Homo sapiens: one gene and its partner. The protein of the gene in region 2 purifies or fractionates together with the protein of the main gene of each other region. This does not show direct contact. Each region holds a gene or a part of one and is shown on either strand. Other genes may lie near its edges.

Region 1 (3,748 bases), on a different chromosome or scaffold from region 2:
GCCACTATTCTAAGGCACTCAGAATGCATAACTGGACAAAACAGAAAAGATCACTGCAGCTGACACTCTAGGAAGACAGGTAATGAAAATAAACACAGTAAGTATATTTGGAGGTGATAAATGATATGGAAAAAAGAGCAAGGGGTGAGGGGTAGGACGGACACAAATAAACGGTCCTCCTAAGGTGGTTGCAGGGAGAAACAGCCAAAAGCCCATTGTGCTTTGTGCCAAGTAAGCAAGGCAGAGCTCCCACCTGCTTTCAGCGAAAGTGGAGGTCAGAGAGGGGCAGTGACAGCCAAAGAATATAGGGTCTCATAGGTCAAGATTTCTATTTCGATGTAATTAACTTTCTAATTAAACTGATATGGTAAATAGTTTAGAGTTGCCTCAATTCTTATACCTTACATCAATAACATAAAAGATCAGAATCACATGCCAACAGTTCCCATCCACGGACTGATCTACACTTGAGGCCATTCTCTTCACTTGGTGGTCTCAAAGACTAAATAATTTTTTTTTAATGCAAAGGCAGTCAGCCTGTAATCCCAGTGCTTTGAGAGACCAAGATGGGGGACTGCTTGAGGCCAGGAGTTCTAGATCAGCCTGGGCAACACAGTAAGACCACGTCTACAAAAAATTTAAACATTAGGCGGGGTGCAGTGGTTCACGCCTGTAATCCCAGCACTTTGGGAGGCCAAGGCGGGTGGATCACTTGATGACCAGCCTGGCCAACATGGTGAAACCCTGTCTTCACTAAAAATACAAAAAAATTAGCTGGGTGTGGTGGCAGGTGCCTGTAATCCCAGCTAATTGGGAGGCTGAGGGAGGAGAATCACTTGAACCTGGGAGGAGGAGGTTGCAGTGAGCCAGGATCTATGCTACTGCACTCCAGCCTGGGTGACAACTAACATAGGCAAATGCAGTAGCACAGTTATTTTGAGAAAAGGAGGCCGGGCATGGTGGCTCACGCCTGTAATCCCAGCACTTTGGGAGGCCGAGGTGGTAGATCACCTGAGGTCGGGAGTTCGAGACCAGCCTGACCAACATGGAGAAACCCCATCTCTGCTAAAAATTAGCCGGGCATGGTGGTGCATGCCTATAATCCCAGCTGCTCAGGAGGCTGAGGCAGGAGAATCGCTTGAACCCAGGAGGCAGAGGTTGTGGTGAGAGGAGGTTGCACCATTGTACTCCAGCCTGGGCAAGAACAGCAAAACTCCGCCTCAGAAAAAAAAAAAAAAAGCCGGGCGCGGTGGCTCACACCTGTAATCCTAGCACTTTGGGAGGCCGAGGCAGGCGGATCACAAGGTCAGGAGATCGAGACCATCCTGGCTAACACGGTGAAACCCCATCTCTACTAATAAATAATAAATAAATAAATAAATAAATAAATAGCCAGGCGTAGTGGCAGGCTCCTGTAGTCCCAGCTACTCGGGAGGCTGAGGCAGGAGAATGGTGTGAACCCAGGAGGCGGAGCTTGCAGTGAGCTGAGATTGCGCCACTGCACTCTAGCCTGGTCGACGGAGCGAGACTCCATCTCAAAAAAGAAAGAAAGAAAGAAAGAAAATGCTGGGGCAGTGGCTCACGCCTGTAATCTCAGCACTTTGGGAGGCCAAGGCGGGTGGATCACCTGAGGTCAGGAGTTTGAGACCAGCCTGGCCAACATGGTGAAACCCTGTCTCTACTAAAAATACAAAAATTAGCCAGGCATGGTGTTGGGCGCCTGTAATCCCAGCTATTCGGGAGGCTGAGGCAGAAGAATTGCTTGAACCCAGGAGACAGAGGTTGCAGTGACCGGAGATCATGCCATTGTACTCCAGCCTGGGCAACAGAGCAAGAATCCATAGCAACAACAACAAAAAATTAGCCAGGTATGGTGGTACATGCCTGTAGTCTCAGCTACTTGGAAAGCTGAGGCAGGAGGACTGCTTTGAGTCCAGGAGTTCAAGGTTACAGTGAGCTATCATCATACCAATGAACTCCAGCCTGGGTGACAGAGTGAGACCCTGTCTCCCTGTCTCTGGAATAAAATAAAAATAATGCAAATTCCCTGGGATATTCCCAAAACAAACCAAGGTCTCAAGGCTCTTCAAACTAAGAATGTCCTAGGTCAGGCTTGCCTTCTCAAGACAAAACTGAACAAGTTACCAGATGGCATTTTGAGGGAAAGGTATTAGCTAGACAGACTCAAAGATTTTAACACTATGAAGTCTCATAAACCACACAACCCTCAGAGAAGTCTGGAGGAAAACAAAGCATCATTAGAAAATCGGAGGAAAACAAAACATCATTAGAAAATCCATGGTCCATGCAGCTTGACTGCTTTCTGGTACCTCCATTATAAATCCTGGCCAGGCGCAGTGGCCCACACCTGTAATCCCAGCACTTTGGGAGGCTGGGGCGGGTGGATCACCTGAGGTCAGGAGTTCAAGGCCAGCCCAACCAACATGGTGAAACTCTGTCTCTAATAAACACACAAAAAACAGCCAGGCATGGTGGCGCATGCCTGTAATCCCAGCTACTTGGGAGGATGAGACAGTAGAATCGCTTGAACCTGGGAGGAAGAGGTTGCAGTGAGCCAAGATTGCGCCATTGCACTCCAGTCTGGGCAACAAGAGTGAAAACTTCATCTCAAAAAACAAAAAACAAAACAAAACAAAAGTTTCTTCTCCTGCAATCATAAGGCTTCTTTTGTCCTAATAAACGACCATCTCGGACAAATCTTAATGTGAAAATTTTAATTGGGCCAAAGGTACAAAGCTACTTTATATTTATTACACCAAAACCATAATTTTTTTTTTTAATTTCGAGACAGTCTGTGTTACCCAGGCTGGAGTGCAGTGATGCAATCACAGCTCACGGCAGCCTTGACCTCCTGGGCCCAAGCAATCTTCCTCAGCCTCCCAAGTAACTGGGACTACAGGCATGTGCCATCATGCCCGGCTATTTTTTTTTGGTAGAGGCAGGGTTTCCCTATGTTACCCAGGCTAGTCTGGAACTCCTGGACTCAAAGGATCCTGAGGCCTCAGCTTCCCAAAATGTTAGGATTACAGGTGTGAGCTACCACAGACAATTTAGCCTAGTCCAGAATTTTTTTTTTGAGACAGTCTCACTCTGTCACCCAGGCTGGAGGGCAGTGGCGCGATCTCGGCTCACTGCAAGCTCCACCCCCCAGGTTCACCCCATTCTCCTGCCCCAGCCTCCCAAGTAGCTGAGACTACAGGTGCACACCACCATGCCCGGCTAATTTTTTTTGTATTTTTAGTAGAGACGGGGTTTCACTATGTTAGCCAGGATGGTCTCGATCTCCTGACCCCGTGATCCGCCTGCCTTGGCCTCCCAAAGTGCTAGGATTACAGGCGTGAGCCACCGTGCCCAGCCAGCCTAGTCCAGAATTTTACAAATTCCCTTCAATTTTTTTTTTTTTTTGAGACGGAGTTTCACTCTTGTTGCCCAGGCTGGAGTGCAATGGCGTGATCTTGGCTCACTGCCACCTATGCCTCCCAGGTTCAAGCAATTCTCCTGCCTCAGCCTCCCAAGTGGCTGGGATTACAGGCATGCACCAACACACTCAGCTAATTTTGTATTTTTAGTAGAGATGGGGTTTCTCCATGTTGGTCAGGCTGGTCTCAAACTCCCAACCTCAGGTGATCCGCCCGCCTCGACCTCCCAAAGTGCTGGGATTACAGGCGTGAGCCACCGCACCCGCCCAGCCAATTCCTTTCAATATTATGTTCCCTAGCTTCCTCCT
Region 2 (3,748 bases):
ATCATTCATAATTGCACTGTTACAGCCCACTGTTAAAATATCACATTTCAAAATACTTCTTTTTTGTTGCTTAAGCATATTCCATACAACTAAATTTTATATAAAATGTGATTTTTATTGGCTGCATAACAAACACTATCACAGAAGTATCATAACTTATTTTACATTAATTTATAAACTGTGGCATTTCATATTTTAGTTTCACGTTGGGTGATGCCTCTTAACTATGGGACAGATATATATGATCATACCACTTATGTGACTAGTTAAAGATCACGTTTCTATCCCTTTCTTGTCATCCCCTAGAATCAAGCTGCTGCAATCCCCGGAGACCTAATGCAAACGCTTCACCTCCTGGACCCAAGCCATCCCGCCCCCCGCCCCCGCCTCTCCCGTAGCTGGGACCACAGGCACGCGCCATCCTGCCCGGCTAATTTTTTTTTATTTGGTTGAGAGGGCGTTTTGCCATGTTGCCAGGCTGGTCTCTAACTCCTGGGCTTAAGCGATCCTCCCGCTTTGACCTCCCGAAGTGCTGGGATTACAAACACCAGCCACTGCGCCTGGCCCAACATTTTTAAAGTAACAAATGTATCAATTTACAAACTTTCCTTTGGATTTTGAAAACTGAACTTTTTCTCTTCTAAACAAAGTCTATCTACTGAACTTCAGTTTTTTCAGGACCCCGCACAATGGCAGCTTAAGTTGGACCAACTGGAAAGGTTTTCAGTGGATCTTGGGGAGGATCGGAGACAAGGCGAATGGGCTTTATTCTCTTAAAATTTCCTGACGGGCGGTGGACACATATTTGCTTGATGTCACCAAGAGCAAGAATTACGTTCCAGGAGCTGGGAGGAAACAACGGAGGCGGCTCTCTCGCCCCCAAGAAGCGGCCCTTGGTTGGCAGAATTTGACAGATGACTGGGATCTTCGAGGATTTTCCAAGCAGGATCGGGGCGCAGAAGAGGAGGGAAAGTGCGTGAGCCCACGTGACCCAACTCCACTTTCAAGTTTGAGAAGCGGAGCTGCCAGGATAAATACCCATCTGCTACCAATAGATGCTTTCCCTCCCTTGGGCCTGATAAAAGAATCCCCAAGTTCCGGGAGGCATGCTTCGAAAATTGTTGGCAGGAAAAAAATGTTCAACTTTTGCCATTTAGCAATGCACTGACAGCCTTTTGGGGATCATCACTACTTATGGCTCATACATCTGCCCACCGCTTCCTAAGTCCTCTCCCAACCCTCCCCGAGTTTCAGTTCCACTGAACAGAGAACAGCGAGAGCAACAGTTTGGTGGCCGAGCAGCCCGTCTCCGTGGGCGCGCACGCCGCATCGCGGGCCTCACACCTCACTTTGGGCTTCGGCTCTCGGTCGGCCCGAGACTCCGGCCGCGGCCCTGGTGTCCCCCGCCCCGGTTCCCTCCCCTCGGACACGGCCCTCGCGCCGGCGGCCCCGGTCCCCTCCCCACCGGCCGCGGCGGGCACAGCGCGTCGCCTACCCACAGGCGGGGGCGCCGGCCGGGCGCATGCGCGCGGCGCTCCCGGGCGTGCCGGCCACACTCCCCCCACCCACTCGGTGAGCTTGTCACTTCCTGCCCTCGCCCCATCTCCGTCCGGGGTCAGTCAGTCGCTCCCTGTCGCTGCCGGAGAGTCTCTGCTTCCCCCTTCCTACGCGCTCCGCGGCGGTAGCTCGGGCTCTCCGGAGGAGGGGGCGACAGAGTAAAAGAGAGGCTGACTTAATAAAGTTTCCTGAAACAACAACTACCACCGAAAAGGCCCAAGGTTGGGGGAGACCCCCATTTTTCTCCGCCCCTCTCCTAAAGCCTGAGGGACCGTTGCAGGTGGAGCGGCGCTGGTGGGACCCGGGTTGCGGCGGCAGCCGTTGCCCCGGCGAGGGAAGCCTCAGGTCCTGCCCGCTCCGGTTCCGGCTCCTTCGGTGGTGGCGGCGGCAGCTGCTGCCGGGCGGTTCCTCCTGTCAACTGCCTCCGCCCGCGCGCCTCCCGCCTAGCCACACAGCGCGGAGGACGCCGTGAGCCGCCGCCGCAGTCGTCTCGGCCCGCGGAGGGACGTGGTGAGCTGTGGCGCTTCCGCGTCAGCGCCGGCGGGGACTCTTTGGGAGCGCGTCGGGCCCGAGTCCGGGTTCCCCCGCGTGGTCAGCGGAGGCTGCGCCAGGTGGGGCCCGCAGCCGCCTCCCACGCCAGGCTGTCCCCGCGGCCGCCCGGCCTGCCTTCCTTCCTTCCGCCCGCCCGCCGGCCCGCCCTAAGAGTTGAGTAAGTTGGGCGCACTTGGTTGTGGGGACGGGGTCTCCGCCAGGGAGACCCCAACGCACGTGCGTAGCGGGAGGGCGCGGCGTGGGCCAGCAGCCGGCGGGAGCGGCACCTCCGTAGTCCCGGAGCCCGGCGGTGCCCGCCGCGCTCTGCGCTCCGTTTCCGCGCGCCCGCCCGGGACGGCGAGGCCGCAGCCGCCCGCGCTGCCGGCCAGGCCTTCGCCCTGCGCTGCGCACCCGAGGCTGCGTTTCCGGGTAGGGCGATGAACCTGTGTGGGGAGTTTGGGCTGCAGGAGGGTTTGTGCGTCTTTCTGTTTTCTTTTCGAGAGGGAGGTGCGGGTCCGTGGAGGGAAAGCGGAGAGCTGATGATGGGAACGTATCTGGAAAATGCAGCCAGTGCCCCCCAGGAAGTTCAGGGCGAGTGACGGGTTTGTGCTTCTTTCAACAGCCACGCCGCAATGAAGAGCTTCTTACAGTGAAAGCAAAGTAGGTCGAGTCCACTGAAAATGCCTTTAAGGGACAAATACTGTCAGACTGACCACCATCATCACGGATGCTGTGAACCAGGTAGACCCCTCTTCGTCCGCAGTTGCTTTGCCCTCCATCAGAGCCACTCTGCCTTCTCTTTTTTTCTAGCTTTTTTTCCTCCTGCCCCAGTAGTCATTCTTAAGCAGGCTATGATATTCCCTAGCATAAGCCAGTTATGAAGCTAAAAGCTTGTACAAACAAGAGGTCTCCCCTGCTTGATCCCTTAAAAAAAAGTACTGCAAGTGTCACCTTAAATCATTTCCACAAGATCAGTCGCTCAGTCTTTTTTCTTTCTTTTTCAAGGCATCCTGCAGTTAATATACTCCTATGGTCTGTAAATGTTTAAAATTGAAGAGAAAGGAAAACATAGAATACTAGATTTGTTGTCGTGAAATTGTTTCACTGAAACTTTAAAAATTAAAAGTTTCTTAGGCATTTTAATCAGCAAGTAGTTCTGAAAGTCTAAAAGTGAGTTTAGTTTGGGTTTTAAAAGTTTGTTGAACTCATTGGGAGAATCAGGTTTTGCTAAGCGCAACCTTTAAAAAAATATCTTGGGCAGAACATATTATATTGCGAAATAAAAGAGAAATCTCTTTTTTTATTTAGGTAGAATACATAATTATTTCCAGGGTATTTTATGGAATGAAACTTGCTTTAGTTGAATTTATCATATGAAAAAGTTTTTCGGAGTCTCATGAAGAATACTAGCAAACTTTAATTTGATAAACTTGATATACTGTTGACAGTTCTACTTAGAACTTTGATATGCTTTGTGACAATCATTAAAAGGTATAACTTAAAAGGGAATCATTGAATGCATACCATCACTAAATCAAATAAAGGCTAGGCTATTCTAGTTTAAAGGCGGATGTTTATCATTATTTTTGACCTAAAAGTTATTAGATTTTTAATACATTTGCTTGCTTTTTGTTGGAGTATTTTAACTGCACTTATGTAC

The links. The genes of interacting proteins can lie anywhere in the genome.
Region 1: the proteins of ZNF800 (region 2) and MTA3 purify together in Homo sapiens (affinity purification with mass spectrometry; 2 studies listed by BioGRID and IntAct, with this or other methods). This does not show direct contact.

What each region holds. Positions count from the first base shown.
Region 1 is NC_000002.12:42,571,626-42,575,373, reverse strand, and holds part of MTA3 (metastasis-associated protein MTA3), read right to left. Parts: intron 1-3,748. UniProt on the Homo sapiens protein: Acts as a component of the histone deacetylase NuRD complex which participates in the remodeling of chromatin.
Region 2 is NC_000007.14:127,390,578-127,394,325, reverse strand, and holds the start of ZNF800 (zinc finger protein 800), read left to right. Parts: upstream 1-1,617; 5' UTR 1,618-2,266; exon of another isoform or gene 2,267-2,517; intron 2,518-2,710; 5' UTR 2,711-2,768; coding exon 2,769-2,829; intron 2,830-3,748. UniProt on the Homo sapiens protein: May be involved in transcriptional regulation.